Regions from separate parts of the Homo sapiens genome. Here region 1 is linked to region 2. The links come from fine-mapping of genetic effects on gene expression. A gene starts in region 2. The other region holds a variant in brackets. All regions are shown on one strand. Distances are between the middles of the regions.

Evidence for each region. PIP is the estimated chance that this variant, and not a neighbour inherited with it, causes the effect.
Region 1: its variant is fine-mapped to the expression of BMP2 in whole blood (TOPMed, PIP 0.97).

Annotation. Positions count from the first base shown.
Region 1 is chr20:6,885,800-6,894,131 of GRCh38, reverse strand. No RefSeq gene overlaps it. Among named protein-coding and RNA genes, the nearest start is that of BMP2, 120 kb to the right of the region's middle. The variant A/G (reference allele first, on the strand shown) is at 5,201.
Region 2 is chr20:6,763,547-6,771,878 of GRCh38, reverse strand. It overlaps BMP2 (bone morphogenetic protein 2), which reads right to left and starts at 4,193. Exons shown (of 3, transcript NM_001200.4): 1 at 3,004-4,193; 2 at 1,407-1,759. The coding sequence starts at 1,752. LOC105372517 (a long non-coding RNA gene) reads left to right here and starts at 4,395. Exons shown (of 4, transcript XR_937229.2): 1 at 4,395-4,558; 2 at 5,074-5,479; 3 at 5,871-6,027; 4 at 6,210-6,286. RefSeq lists cis regulatory regions at 3,514-3,688, 4,329-4,428, 4,435-5,225, silencers at 4,060-4,109, 4,200-4,249 and promoters at 3,139-4,298, 3,688-4,329, 3,139-8,017.

The DNA of each region.
Region 1 (8,332 bases), 120 kb before region 2:
TGAACTAATTATGTTTCTAGGTTTATCTATTTATTTAGTATCTCTCTCACCAGACTAAGTTTCCTGACTGCAGAGACTTCGTATTTTATTGCTTTAGTGTTTAATATCATTTCCAGCATCACATATATATATATATATATAGGTTAGAAGACCAGTTGAATGTGTAGAATGAATTGATATTTGGGTAGCCAATAAAACTGATCAAGGTCCGTCTTTTTGGATGCACCTAGTTTAGCAAGCAGAAGATGTGTTTCCTAATGTGGCCTGGGCACAGTCTTTAGCCATTCACCTTTTTCAGGAATTGATTCAGCCTCTGCCCTTCCCAGAAGAGCCACATCCAGTGATTAATCAACATGGAAGTAACCAACTCGGGACAATTTTGAAGGGCTATTTCAGCTTTAGAGCCCCCTGTGAGTTTGGCCAAAGCTGCCAAGGGGCCTGTATCACAACTCAACTTCTCCATTTGCCCGTAATAAACATCTTTCATGCTAAACCAGTGAGGCTAATCTCCAAAAATGAAAAAGCAAAAAAAAAAAAAAAAAAAAGCAGAAACTCAGGCACCAAAGTGACTCAGGGTACTTCTTTTAGCCATTGAATCAAGTGGTCTCAGCCAGTTATAAGGACAAAACAAGCATTAGGAGAGATGCAACACAGCTGTCAATTTCAGGAAGGAGATGGTGGATCTGGATTATAGGTAGATAGGGTGTGCTATGAGGCTCAAGGCTGCCAGGTCTGAGGAGCCTTTAGTTCTCCAAAGTTTTAGGTCAGAGAGTATGGCCATTGGAGCAAATAACTAGTCTGCCTCACCCCTGCCTGGTTGAGAGAACTTGTTGGAAGACCTCTGCTTGGAAACAAGCACCTACATCTGGCCTCATCAGAGAAAGAGGGGCCTCCTGTGAGGGTCTTTTCAAATGCTGCACCTGCCCTGGTATGTCCTCAGGCTCTCCTTCTAGTTCCTGGGGCCTCAGTTTACCCACCTCTACATATTTCCTACATTACTTCAAAGAGGTGCTGGGAGACTTAATTAATGTTTGTCAAGCACATCTTATATGAAAGGAATCGTATGCAGTAAGTTCAAAGTAGTCTTGGCCCTGCTGTTTCTTTCATGTGTGCTTAGAAGATCTTTCAACCTTGATAAGAAGAAAAAAATAAATAAATCCCCACTTGCTGAAGTGCTTGGATTTGGACTGTCATATTATGATGCTGTCAGCATTTTCTTTGAATTTCACAGGAAAAAATGAATAAAAATCAGTCAAACAATTGCTTCCATAATCACATCATCATTCTCTAGGTGGTCAAGCAATTAATTCTCCTGCTTCTGTTCTTTCTTCTGCTTTTGCTCTTTAAATCCTCTGACTGAAACTTCATTTAGATCCTTATCACTGTCTCAAATATGGCAAATTTAAAGTCAGGCAAACCCCATCATGATAAGAGCGCCTTTCCTTAAATATATGGGTTTTTTATTTTGTTTGTGTCCACCCCATGCTCAAGTCCCATATGTGATTCCCATGCCTTCAGACTAAAACTCAATATTTTAGGAAGTTATTCTTAATGTGGTCCCTGTCTACATATCCAATCTCATTTCCCACCGCCATCCCTTCCAACACACACACAGCTTTGCCTTTAGTTCTCCAAAGTTTTAGGTTTTGGCTGCAGGCATAATACCTCAGTTCCCTTCATCATCTAAATCTCAGCTTTCACTTTCTTCTTCAAGACTTATCCTCCTCCTAACCCAATATATACCCCAACTTTCCTAACCTATGCATCCCTCCACCATATCTGGAGTGTGAAATAATCATTTTTGTATCTAGCTTACCATTGGTCTGCAGGTTCCCTAAGGAAAAGGGTGATATCTTTCATCTTTGTATCCACAGTGTTCCCAGGACACTAGAGATACTTGATACATATTTGTAGGATAAATATACATGAGTAAGCAGGGAGATGATGATGAGGCATTTTTAAAACCAATGGATTTCGGAAGCAAACTCTTTTCTAACCAAAAACAAGCAAACAAAGCAAGGGACCTGTTGGTTTTTGCATGAATGGATAATTCCACAAGAGTTGAGATAGAACAGGATGGAAAATCTGATGATCATTTTATATTTATTTATTTAATTTTTTTTTGAGATGGAGTCTTGCTCCATTGCCCAGGCTGGAGTGAAGTGGCACCACAACCTCCGCCTCCCAGGTTCAAGCAATTTTCCCGCCTCAGCCTCCTGAGTAGCTGGGACTACAGGCATGCACTGCCATGCCAGGCTAATTTTTGTACTTCTAGTAGAGATGGAGTTTCACCATGTTGGCCAGGATGGTCTTGATCTCCTGACTTCATGATCCAGCCACCTCAGCCTCCCAAAGTGCTGGGATTACAGGCATGAGCCACTGCACCCAGCCCTGGTGATTATTTTAAAATTGGAAAGTCTCTAAGACATAACTTCTGGAAAAATGTCACCATATTTCATTTGCAATTCATAAGGATGACAGGCAGGGCAATCAGCTAGTCAGATGGAGGAGGAAAAAACAACTGATTAATATCAATCTGCAACTAAATTCAGTGTGGGGCCAATAGCAGGAGAAATGAGAGACAGAACCTAAATGTTATCATTTATCATTTGTGCTGTAGGCCTAGGGTTTTGAAACCTGGGTGATCATTGGAATTGCCTGGGAAGCAGTTGAAAATACAGATCCCTGGGCTCCATTAGTGACCTAATGAATTGGAAACTCTGGGATGGAAAGGGAAGGGGTAGATGAGGGATCTGTATTATAAAAAGGGCTTCCATTTGATTCTGAAAATGAATGAATTTGAGGAACACTGACCTATGATTCATTCATTTATTCATTCAAAAATGTACTCAATCACTGGTTTTTTATCCACATATTCATTTATTCAATGAATGTTGGTGATAAAGAGAACAGAAAGAGGCTGGGCGTGGTAGCTCATGCCTGTAATCCCAACACTTTGGGAGGCCGAAGTGGGCAGATTGCCTGAGCTCAGGAGTTCAAGACCAGCCTGGGCAACATGGCAAAGCCCTATCCCTATTAAAATACAAAAAAATAGCCAGGTGTGGCAGCATGCACCTGTAATCTCAGCTACTGGGGAGGCTGAGGCAGGAGAATTGCTAGAACCCAGGAGGCGGAGGTTGCAGTGAGCTGAGATCATGCAACTGTACTCCAACCTGGGTGACAGAGTGAGACTGCATCTCCAAATAAATAAATAAATAAATAAATAAATAAATAAATAAATACCAGAAAGAAGGAACCTAAAAGAAGAGAAGAACAGCTCCTTTGTCTTTGTTCCTGGTGTTTTGTTTCTTTCTAGGTTTTTTCCTCAAGTTGCTTCTGATTTTTGTTATTATTTTATGAAACTCTCTCTCCATTTTGTAAGGCAGAAATGCTCCAAAATCACAAAACTCCTCTTTATCTTTCCAGGATTACCTTCCTTAAAGAGTAATCTGAAGGTTAATGCACCTTTCCCCAGTGTCAAAATCCACCAAAGAAAAATATTAACAAAGCTATGGAAACCTATGGACAATTATATTCTTCTCTGTCCTTTCTGCCCTTCCTTTCTTCGCCCCAGGCTGACATTCAGATTCTGCATCCAGAATGGCCTGAAGGAGGAGGAGGGTTATTACTCCTGGCAGAGAAAGCCTTAAATTACGGTGAATAAATGAATACTTAGCAGGCTGGTCCTGAGAGGGTGCCAGCTCTTGCTTTAATCATTTAGATAGAAAATGATATGGATTGTAAAATTCATGGAAGGTTCAACCTAAAGGGAGGGAACCTGGAGCAAGGAGGAAGAGGACTTTTCAAATAATTAAGAGAACCTAATAGAGTAATGTTCAGTTAACAAGACCTGTACCAGGTATGGCTTCCACTTCTGACCCTTCATGAGGGTTTTCTTCTTCCTGCCAAGAAGCCAGTGCTCGAATCCACACAGTACTCCAATACACTTTTATTATGCAGTGGAGCACCTAAAATCTTGCTATCTAGTTTAAAACCTGTCAAGGAGAGTAGAGGGAAGCACTAGAAACAGGAACTATGCAATCATAAACTTGTACTATGGGAGACACCCTAGTGAACAACAACCCCCTCACCACACTTTACTGTTTAGATTCTGGCTCCCTTTCAAATAAGAAAGGTACAATATAGCGATTATTATTATTATTATTTTTTTTTTTTTTGAGTTGGAGTTTCACTCTTGTTGCCCAGGCTGGAGTGCAATGGCACCATCTTGGCTCACCGCAACCTCCGCCTCCTGGGTTCAAGCAACTCTCCTGCCTCAGCCTCCCGAGTAGCTGAGATTACAAGCATGCACCACCATGCCCACTAATTTTATATTTTTAGTGGAGATGGGGTTTCTCCATGTTGGTCAGGCTGGTCTGGAACTCCCAACCTCAGGTGATCCGCCACCTCAGCCTCCCAAAGTGCTGGGATTACAGGCATGAGCCATCGCACCCAGCCCAATATAGTGATTATTTTTTAATGGGCAATAGTAATAATCCTTCTACTTAAATAGGATTTTCCACAGGAGGAAGCTTTGGGTTTAATCAATAGGATTCACTCTATTTGCCCACGGCTTAGAGGCCAGCAAAAGTTCAGCAACCTTCTTCAATTCACATGGTCAGTTGAGAATGATCCATTTGCAAAACTTAAACATCAAGATAATCCAATTCTGCGGAGGGTGCTGCCTGCTCTGCTGCCATATGAGGCATTTGTGTGAGAAAACCCAAGCAGCCAAAACTCATACCTAATCCTTGGGACTTGGAGATTTCATTTACCTTAAGTCTTTTGGGGTTGAGTTATCTTGGCAACCTGTAGCGTCTAAGCATGCAGTATCTGTATCAAGGAACGGCTTATAAAATTCATCCAAAAGGACTCCCAAGATTCTGGGGGCATCAAATAGCTCACACACAACATTTTGCAAGGAAATGAGTCAGCACTAGGTAGATTCCATTTTTCAAGTAGAGTGCTAGCTTCCTGTCCTACTATCTCCAGTCCTGGGAGGAGAGCCTCAACGGGGAGAGGAAGATTGAAGATTTTCTGGGCATGGTGAGCTTGGGTTTCCTTTGAGCCGTAAGTGTTTATGAAAACAATAAGGAATATTAGATAATATCAAAACATGTTCAAGATGACTTTGCTTTAGGCAAAAACCATGCATTTCTAAAGCTAGCCATGGGCCTCCTAAAAGTTCCTCTTTGTGGTC[A/G]CTAACCCAAGTTGACTGACCCCAATACATTTAGCAACAAATGATGAGTTTACATTCATGTTCTCAGCACCAAATTCTTTAATCTTTAGCTTTGTAACTTAATAGATATACTGTGAGTCTTATAAATGAAGGAATACAAATAAGAACCAGGTCTATTTGGTATCTGTGATGCACCAGCTCTACAAGAGGGGCTTTTCCAGTAAATAAGATTCAAATTTACCAATATCCTTTAGAGTAGTCAGTCGTTATGAGATGGGCTGTGGAATGAATCTGTCCTAATTCATTCCCGGATCCTCCACCCATGGCTGGGTGACCTAATTTAACCCCTCTGTGCCTCAGTTTTTCGGTCTGTAAAGTGTGGATAAGAAGACCTTCTAGTTCAAATATCAAGTGTCTTAGGCCTGCAAACGAACAACTTTTTAGTAAACTTTTAGAGCAGCCTTCTAAAGCAATCAGGGAGGAGAGGGAAAGATACACAAAACAAGCCAGTTGGATTTTGCCAAAATCAGTTCCTTGTCCCTGTCAACCACCTGGCTTCATGGTCATTCCATGTCCCCTGTTTTCCCAAGGACATAATCAGGGATATAGCTACTTTGTGCCTCACTGCCCCTGGCTGTGGGCTTCCCTGGGGAGATCAAGATAGGCTTTATAAGTCCTTTGCCCCGTCATGAAACAGTACCCTGACTACACACTCAGCCTGGTCTGGTATGAGCACCCACTTCCAGTCTAGACGGCAGCCTAAGAGAGGGGCTAATGCTAGGTTGCACCAGACTGAGCCTCATACTTGTCATGGCTCTGCCCACGGTGATTCCTTTGATCTTGATCCTAGCAAACCACAGTCATCGACAAAGGTAGAATGGATTTCTGCTTCTGAAAAGCTTTGATGGAAACTCCCTTGATTTCCCATTCCCTCCCCAGCCCTTCTGCTCCTTTAGATTTACCTCCAACATTTAGTCCTAAATCCAGCTGTAAATCCAGCCTGAGAGAGCCCATCAAACCGGCATGATTCATGTGCCATCCTGTTTGGATATCTGGGGCCATAGCTGACCCACTTGGGAAAGTACACGGTCATTTTTACTTCGCCAGGCATCCTAATCACAGATTCCAGGCTCAGTATTCTTTGTTTAATTTTCTCTGAGAATTGGCTGGACTGTGATCTGATCCTCAGAGAAAGGCAATCATTTCTAAAGGGTAGATTTTTAGAAAAGTTTGCAATTACAAACAACGAAAAATATATGCAGGCTTTCTGCGGTTATGCTGAAGGAATGTGCAGGACATCCATGCCCCTGTCATCTCAAGGCTCTCTTCTAAAATCAGGACCTGTTTCCAGGGCTCTTTGCAGCAGTGTTTCCCTTTCATTTCTTGTGTGAAGAAAGGAAGTAACTTGAGAAAGCAACTTTTAAGAAACTTGAAACACGTTTACTTGTTTCCCAGGCTTCAGGTTAGGGCTGATGGCTCCACAAAGTAAGTGCAGCCAGATTCATGAAACTCGTAACGTTTTGGAGGTGATGTCTAACTGACCGTCTCATTCTACAAATGAGAGCACTAAAACCTTGGAAAAGCTAAAGCTTGCTGGAGGCCTAAGTGATTTCACAAACAGAGCTTGTCTGGAACTTAGTACTTTTAATTCCTAAGCCAGTGCCTATGCCCTAAGCCAATAGGTAATCCAGTGGGCAGTGGTCCCCAAGGCAGGCCAGGCCTGAGCTACTGATAACCCTCTTTATCCCAGTCCTGTGAAACATCAATTTCAGTTAATGCCAATAGCTTCAGGGGCAGTTTTTCAAAGCCCTCTCTCCAGGACATCAGCCTGGATGCAGAGCACAGAGAAATAAAATAATTTACATAGTTTACTAACTCTAAAACTCAGAACTGAGAAGAGAAAGGGCCAGTTTTTCCATATGCAGACTTCAACCTTCTCAAGACCCAAATGACAGGTAAAAATACACATTCGAATGTCTCTCCTTGCACACACACCGTCAAGACCACTTTGCCTTCCCTCTTTCCCAAAGCGAAAGAATGGATATGCTGGGAGTGTTTGGTAGCCTGCTATCAGAAGAAAATAGAGACATCATCATTTTCCCTTTTTGACATTTTTTTTTCCTGCCAGTAAAAGAGAGAGAAACTTGCTTAGGGATCAAAATATTAGCTGGAGAAAGAATTTACAGGGGTGCTGGCAGCTGGTTGGCTGTAGAGGGAGAAAGCCTGTGGGGTGTGGACCGCCAGTCTCGGAAAAGCGCACTGCAGAGCAGGGTGCAGGAGAACCCAGCAAAGCAGGATTTGACAGGTGCCTGGCTCAGGCTCCCACTGGCCAGGCAATCGTCAGCTCTGTTCTGCTTGGCTCTCTTAAACAACAAGTTAAGAGCCAGCTGCTTTCTGCGCTTGGCTCTGAAATCAGCAGGTCTCTCTGCTCTGTTCAGCGGAGGCATCCCCAGCAGGGAGTTAGTCAGGGTACTGGCTAGAGCCTTCATGCCTCAGAGTAAAGGCTTATGAAGGAGGTAATTACGCAGCTGGAAATGGGCAGGCCCTTAGGGCAAAAGAGAAAGAAAGGAAGGTGATCTTCTCACTTACTTAATGCTTAAAAGAAAAAAAATACCCTATGCCTGTCAAAGAGAAGCATCCTAGTATTAGTGGTGCTATGATCAGAGATCCCCTCTCCCTTACCCATTGTGTGGTTACTAAATCAACACAGGAAGCCTGTCCACAAGACTTCAATGTCAACATTGCCCGCCCCTACCTGACCACCAATTTTGCATTGATTAGCTTCCATGATTCCCTGTCAGGCAATTTAGTTGTTTAGTTGCTGGTTAGTTGTTTCTATTTTCCTGAGCATTCTTCTCAAACCTGTTCCCAATGTTTATACTCTGGAGCTACTGACCACCCTTTCCTTTCCCGAACTCTTCCACTGTCATCAATTCCTCGAGAGGTCAACATTACTGCGGGCAGAAGGAAAGATGGCTGACCCTGGCCCTGGACTTCCTTCCCTCTGACACACTGAATACCCTTCGTCAAAAAACCATAATCCAAACTGCAATGTTGGTGCCTATAAGAGAGCTAGTCCCGCTCTCCTCAGAGAGCCCAGCTTGGAGATTTCTGATGTTGAAGTTACCTGCCAATTAGAATGGCCACATTGCA
Region 2 (8,332 bases):
ACACACAAATTTTACATATGACAACAGGTGATTTCTGCTTTCATTGGATGAATTCTGAAAGAGTGGAGTGAGATCTTACTGCCTTTCAAATCTGATTTCTGCTAGCAGAGAGCACCTCACTTAGAAATGTGCTTGTAAATGAACTGATGATCAATTCAGTGTCCCCGTCGTAATGTGTAGCTGCCTCAATGAGAACGTATCTTCTGCTATGTGGCTTGCCTTTGGGACTTATTCCCATTACCAACAAATACTCTCACAAGTATAAGTCACCCTTCACACTGGGAGAAAACATCTGGAAGTGCCATTTCCCATTAGTCTATTATCAGTGTAAATTTCCCACTTGAAATTTACCACCTAAGCAGGGAAAGGCAAGAAAGAGAACTTCACTCCCAACTCCCCAAATATCTGCCAAGTGGTTGCTCTGTGATATACACTTTTGTACTCTTTTCTAGGAATTGAAGAAACCCATGCTCTATTTTAAATGTATTAAGCCAAAGAAGCATTTAAAAGTGTAGAAAAAGAATTGAAGTGGAACATATTTTTGACTAATTGCTCTAAGAACTTAGGTACAGCAGACCTCAATAGCTGCTGTAAGACATTTCCAGTCCACTAAATGCCCTTCTGATGAAACAAGCAGAAATATCCCACCTTAGAAAAACCACATGTAGTATCATAAAAGAAAAAAAAATCCACATTTCGGTGCACATGAAAAAAAAACAGGCAGCTGCTACAAACGCTTTTATCTGAAGGCTTGCCTTGTCTCTACTCAGAGCCTATCTCAGATTTAAGCACAGGACAAGAAAGTCATTGTGGAAACAATAAGATTGATTGTAGTATTGATCTCCCACGGGGATTAGATTGGGATTCAAAATCTTCCAAACCAGGCCCAGATCAACTATAAATTAGAAAGACTTTGGGGCCCTGGGCTTTGATTTTTCAATACTATCTCTGAAAACTCTGCCCTTGGCTCTGTCTACCCTAAAACCCTGGCTTAAGCGGCAGATTTATAGAGCAAAAGCTTCCAAACAGACTTAAAGAAATCTCAATCTGCCTCCCTTTTTCTCCTTTTCCCTCTGTGGAATTCTTGCACGTTTAGCTGACTAGAGGCATGCCTTTTGCCCTCATCTTCCCCATCACTTGATTTCTCTCCAATTCTTCCAGGAGGAGTAGCTCTTCTGGCTGCAAGCCAGGAAGAGGGTGCGGAGTTACTAAAGGGGAATCCCTGGCTCCCCCACCACACAAGCAGTGAGTTAAAATCAGATTCAGAAACGATAGTACAGAAGCAAGAGTGGAAACGTCCGCTGGTGCCCCGGCCAAGCTGCCTCTACAGGGACGGCTGCAGTCTGCCCACGGTGGAGGGCTTTGCAGGGTGACTCCCCGCCCCCACGCCCTGCTCCATGCCTCACCTTCATGGTGGAAGCTGCGCACAGTGTTGGCTCGGCTGGCTGCCCTCTCCAACCGGTGGTCTGGGGCGGGTGAGCCCGGCTGACCTGAGTGCCTGCGATACAGGTCTAGCATGTAGGGGGGCACCACGGCGTCCCTGCTGGGGGTGGGTCTCTGTTTCAGGCCGAACATGCTGAGCAGCCGCAACTCGAACTCGCTCAGGACCTCGTCAGAGGGCTGGGATGAGGGGCGGCCCGACGACGCCGCCGCGAACTTCCTGCGGCCCAGCTCCGGAACGAGGCCAGCCGCGCCGCCCAGGAGGACCTGGGGAAGCAGCAACGCTAGAAGACAGCGGGTCCCGGCCACCATGGTCGACCTGCGGACAGGACCGACGTGAGTCACCCGAGTTCCCCGCCCAGTCCTCCCCCCTCGCGCCCCCGCGGCCCGGTCTCCCATTTGGCTGGCGTGCCTCCTCCAGGATGCCCTCCTGGCTTGGCACACTCACGAGTCTAGGTAAGACCGACCGAAGCTCAAACGTTTGGGATAATGAAGGGTCCCAAGTTCCTGAACCAGATGATTTATCGCTCCCATCCAACGCTTAGCTCGTCTGACATCAGATTTGGGATTTGCCCTCCCCCCCAACCAAACCAGCGCCAATGACTGTCACTTTTTTGTGTGTGACACAGCGCTGACAGCCAATGCCGGGAACCTGGGAAAACCACCGCTTGATCTGACACCCTGCGTCCCCTATACAAACCCAAATGCGGAGTGCTGAGCGCTGTCTGGCATATAAACACACATAAATGGTGCATGTGACTTCCTTAGAGGCACTGTATAGAACTTCCTGACACACACACACACACACACACACACACACACACACCCTTATAGCTTCCAGACCCTGTAAGCTCAAGGCCACAACTTCTGAAGCCACTTATGACTTGTGTCCCAGGCCCCTACCCTCAGGGGTGTCTCGAAAGGCAGCTCCATCCCGCATCCCCACAGTGCAGTCAAGATACACATGTATCTTCCCGGGATTACGTAAATGGTGAATATCTATTAATGCACGTGTCAGCTGTTAAAAACACAGTACCAAGTGATCCTTCAGTACTGACCCCTCGCATTTCTGGAAACAAGTAGGGAGAACCCCAAACTCCTAGTACTTTCCTAAATGGGACACGGCTCTGAGCAAAGAAACCAAGTCTCCCGGAAACACTTGAAGAATGGAGATCACCATGGCAGAGCGGACAGGTTCTCAGCTAACGGGTGAAACCCAGGGGCTACCCTCTCAAAGGGATTTCTTTGACCCAAAAAAGTTTTTAAAAAAATTAAAAATAAATAAATAAATAAATAAAACACCTCATCTAAGTGTTAACAGCTCCAAAAGTATTCCAGGGAGAGGGGAAGAAAGAGGGGTGGAAGAGTGCGGGCCGGGAGGGTGAGGCTTACGGTCGCCCGGGGCAGCTGGAAGTGGGAGCCCCTGCAGGGCTCCGTTGCACGTGGACTGGAGAGGGGTCTGTTTACTTCTGGCCTGGACGTAAGGAAGGGCTCTACCGCAGTGGCTGCCCAAATCCCCCTCCCACCCACCACCCACCCCGGGCCCTGGCCCGCGTCCTCTACCTTTAGGAGACCGCAGTCCGTCTAAGAAGCACGCGGGGACACGTCCATTGAAAGAGCGTCCACATGGAAAAACTCTGGTCAAAGGACCTGGCGCAAGGACCGAATGTCCGTTCCTTTTCTTTGCCTCCTCCTTCTCCCGGGTGCCGGCCGCGCAGTCTCTCTTTTCACGCTGGGAACAGCGTCTCAGTGTCGGGCAAGGCCGAGGAGTGGAGGGGCGGTGGGGCTCGGAGATGGCGAAGCAGGCTCCGCTGGGGCAAAGGCACCGGCGCAAAGTGGGGTGCGCAAGTTATTCTCCCTGCAAGTTCAAGAAGTCCCCAGCCAAGTGCTGACACACAACAACAGCGAGCAGGGGGAGGAGTGCGGGGCAGGGAAGGGAAGGGAGAAAGGAGAAGCTGGTGCTGTCGTCCTCCTTAGGAACCAGCGCCCGAGGGACGCGTGGCCCCGCGCGGGGCCGGCTCCGGGACTCGGGGGTCGAGGGTCGGGCGCTCCGCGCTAGCTCCGCCGCGGCCCATGGCTCGGGGCAGCCATCCTGGGCGACGCCGGGTCCAGGGAAGGGCACGGCGGCGATCTCGGTGCCAGGCGAGTTGCCCCCCCGCATCACTCTGCCTTACTCCAGTGCACCCCCATTCGCGCTCGCCAGTTGAAAGCACCGCGGCTCTGGCGCCCCGTCGTCCTCGGGCGCATTCTCCGGCGAGTCGAGCCGAGTCCCGGGCCGCCGAGGCGGGTGGCTGTGCTCTCCCCTCGCTCTCCTAGCCCTGGGGCCAAGTGCCCTTTGTGGCTAGCCTGGGGTCCGATCACACCTCGGCCAGCGCGTCCCAGGCCCCCGATCTCCTGCAGTAGGTGCTCCGCATCGCGGCGCTAGGGATCGGCTCCGGAGTCCCCGGCGCTCTGCGCGCCCGTCCGCGGCTCTGGCGCAGCCCGGGCAGCAGAGGCCACGGCGCTGTGGCGCGCTCTGCCGGGTGCTCCAGCCCGCGCGGGGTCTGCGGCGCGCGGGTGCCTCGCGGTCCCCGGTGATCCACTCGGCGCTGGCCCCGAGAACGTTCGGGTAGCCGGCGGAGGCTGTGGCGGCAGATGTGCGGCGGCGGCTGCCAGTCCCCGGCGGGGTGTGGGAAGCGGAGCGACTAGCGCAGCGCGAGCCGGGCGCAGCGCGGCGGGGCGAGGACTCCGGCGGCGGCGACGGCGGCGGCGGCGCCGTGGCGCGGCGCTCGCGGCTTTTAAAGGGGACGCCGCCTGCCGGCTCCCTCCCGGCCGCGGCCGAACACCTCCCCCTTCGCGGCGCGGCTCGCCGGGGATCCCCGAGCGGGCGGGAGCTGCGCGCAGGGGTGTGGACGGCGCGCCCGGGCAGCCGCGGCGGGGTGGGGCGGAGGGCGGGGGCGCGCGGCCGCCAAGGGGGGCGCTCGCGCCTCCACTCCCTGCTCTCAAAGGAGAGATCAGCTGGCGCGCCGGACCCTCGCGGGGACTCTGGAGGCGAAATCCAGGACAAATGCAGGGTCAGGGTCTGGCCTCTTATTTCCCCGCTGGGCCCGTTATTCAACTTTCAGTTTGAAGTTTTTCGGTAATATACGATTTCAAAAAACAAAACAAAACAAAACACCTCAATTACAGCGTATTTTGGCATAGCATAGACGTGGGATCCACGCTTCTGTTTCCCCGGAATAGGAGGAAAATTAAAAGAAAACAGCAGGCTGGAAATTGAGTGTTTTTAAACATTAATACATAGAGATGTATGTATTTACATATGTAAATGCATGTGTACAAATTTTTTTACATAAATGTGTATGCATTTATTTTCATATCCATACGCATGTAAATTTATAGTTACATAAATATATCCAATATACAAAAATATGTGCATATATTTCTATAAATATATTCATGTATGAGAATATATGCAACCGAAGGGCCACATTTCGGTTAATATGTCTATGTATGTGACATGGATGTCATCCTGCTTTACGTGACATGTGTGTAACGTAGACTGCGTGTGTGGCAGACTGAAGGATGGATGGGAGGGATTTGATTTTTTTATTGTACAATCACTTTGTGCCTTGTGATATTTATCTCACCCAGCTCAGAGGCAGGCGATTAGCAGCTCAGAGGAAGGTAAAATAACGCACTGTGTGAACCAAGCATACAGGACAATTCCAGTTTGGGACCTTGGAACCTTCTACGCCACCCTCTTCCACCAGGCCCCCAAGAAGTAGGGCTGTGACACGTGGCCAAGTCACTCCTCAGCTGAATATTCACTGAAGTCACTCCTCAGCCGAAATACTGCTCAGAGCTGCTGCACGATGAGTCTGGGGCCAAGGCTTTCTGCCCTTCCCAGGATTCCAGGAGCCCCCATGCACAGCACCTCGGGCTTGCCCAAATGATCCCCAAAACCAAGGGCAGAAAATTTTTGGAAAAGGCCAAGTTCTGCTTTCCCAGAGCTATCGGGCCTGCGAAACAGAGAGAAAAAAGTCAGAAGCAGGAGCTGGTAATAGAACTATTATCCATGTGTATTATTTTTTCGGTAGGGGAGCTAAAATAATACTAGGTTCCGCTCACGTAAATCGGATTAGCAACCCACAGAGGCGAATTAGGCACTTGCTGTTTCTAAAGGTATAAAGGTCAAATAAGGTATTTTGGAGGAAGCCTGACTACCAGGAAAATAAAAGGGGGTGGGGGAATTATTCAGGAACATGCTACTTTATTTCCTGAAAAAAAAAAAAAAGGTGCTATAGAAGTTGATTGTCACTCAGAGTCATTGCACCGCAAACAAGGAGGCAATAAAACATATCCTACTCATGGACACAGGGCTTCTGAAATTATTTCCTTTCCTATCAAGTTTAATTGAGAAGTTAACAATTGTTTCTCTCATTACTTAGATTTCAAAAACAAAACAAAACAAAACTTCAATGAGATTTAAGTAGCTTTTAAAGAGGAGGAAAAGTTGATAACTATTGGATGCACCCGAAGAAAAAATAAATAAATATCCTGTGATGACCTCAAGGATGTCTTGCAGCTTTAGAACTTCATAACCTGGTAAGTGGAAACCTTGTCAGTTTAGAATCTGAGGGAAAATGGGTACTTCTGAACACTGTTTCATGTTAGTGCTGCCCATTGCAGAATCTCTTTTATGTAGGGTGTATGATTTCTGAGGAACTACTGAATGCTTGTTCCAAGCACAACTTACATAAATTTTGGCCCTATTTTTTTTTTTTTAGAGATGGCTGCCCTCTTGTGGTGGAAATGAGTTCGAACGCTTGAAAGAAAGAAGTCCATAAATAAATAAATAAATAAATAAGTAGTCTCCAGAGACTGATTTGGGATCGAAGTACAGGATGACTGTACCTACCCGTTTTCCAGGGAAGAGCAATAGTCAGAAATGATAAATCTAAATACAGACGAGCTATTTCTTTTTTTTTTCTCTCTCTTCACTAATGGCTACCTTCCACCTGCAACTTAGAATGCTGGGTTATTTAATACTTTGGGAGAGTGTCTGTTTGCCTTGAAAATATCACTTGCAGCTAACCATTGTCAATTCTACCGTTTTCAAAGGTCCATTCAAAGTTTTTCAGTTCAGAGGGTGAGATTCAGTCTTGCTGAGTTTATCAGACTTAGTGCATCTGCCAGCAAATGTGGAAGGGGCAGAGGTGGGAGTGGGGAGTTGTTTAAGATAGGGATAGTAGAAGTTGCAAATTCAAATGCATCAGAGGGTACAGACAAGTTATGTAAAAAAGCAAAGATGACCAGATAATGATTCCACATAAAGGAGGTTGTTGCTATTCCATTTCAGTCATCTCTTGGCAGTTTCTCAGGAGATAGTGGAAATTTGCATTTGATTGTGTGTGGACAAGACTCGGGATGAAATTAACTGCTTACAGTCATACTTTAGCAATTTTAGCACTTCAGCTCACATGATATTCCATTTTATTGCATTCTGTAGCTATTAGCATTCAGTATTGTTCTTGCTAGGCCAAACATTATGCAAATCAACATTAAAATAGTGATCCCCATGTATTGTAAAGTTCACAGCAGGCATTACGTGATCCATCTACCTTGTAATTGTCATTCCATGGAAACCTGTGGCAACTGCCCTGAGAAACCCTCTTTGCTTTTTAGCATACATATCGCTTTGTTACAAGGGTGACACCCATAACCATCCCTACTTACTTTACCTGGATGAAGTTTTTTTTACAGGAACTTGGAGCCAAGGCAAAAGAGAAGCATTTAGTCAATCAAATGTTTTCCTTTTTGGTGTTTGATTAGACATGGTAGAAAGGATGGGAGAGGTGGAGTGATTTATATCAGAAACTAGGCCAAGTTGGCCAAATCAGGATCACTGCTTTCAGCAAGTACCAACTACATCTTCTTAAAAATTAAAAAGAATGAATTTTGTGCATTGATTAGACTGTCACACAGTTTAAGATGTACACCTTAAGTTATGTCTGTAAACTATGTTGATAACACTCTAAGATGTAGTTGGGTGACCTGGGTTCTAATTCCTGGTTCTGTCATGGATGACTGACTTTAAAATGGTCATTTCATCTGTTAATTGGGGTAAATAAATATATGTTTGCTTGCTTCAGACTGACATGATGAAGGTCAAATGGATAACATGTGTGAACTTAGTTTCTGATTGCTACTCACTCTATGTATCTTCAAATGTATTCTTTGGCCTTCTGTCTGCAATATGGCCTGGTTTTAAGAAATAGGACTTTGGATGCCTTTCTTCTCCTCCTCTTTCTCCTCCTTCTCCTTCTCTTCTCCCAGCTTTTATTATATTGCCAAACAGTGGATATTTCATCAGAAAGGCCACCAGTTGGGTCAGTCAATCTAAAGCAGAGGTCCCCAACCATTTTGGCACCAGGGACCAGTTTTGTGGAGGAAAATTTTTCTACAGACCAGGTTGGGGGTGATGGTTTCAGGATGAAACGGTTCCACGTCAGATCGTCAGGCATTAGTTAGGTTCTCATAAGGAGCATGCAACCTAGATCCCTCATACATGCAGTTCACAGTAGGGTTTGAGCTCCTATGAGAATCTAATGCTGCTGCTGATCTGACAGGAGGCAGAGCTCAGGCAGTAATGCTCCCTCACCTGCCCCTGGGGGTTCCTAACAGGCCATGGACAAGTACTATTCATGGCCCGGGGGTTGGGGACCTCTGATCTATGGCAGTAACAAATTCTCATAGCCTCGGCTCCCTCATGAATACTCTATAGAGACTAACAGTTGACTTCTCATGGAGGTTGTGAAGAATAAATGAGAAGATATGTGTGAAGACAACAAAAGGTTGCAAATTTGTATTACTATATACATGCAAATTAAGGCCATCGGTTCTGGTTCTC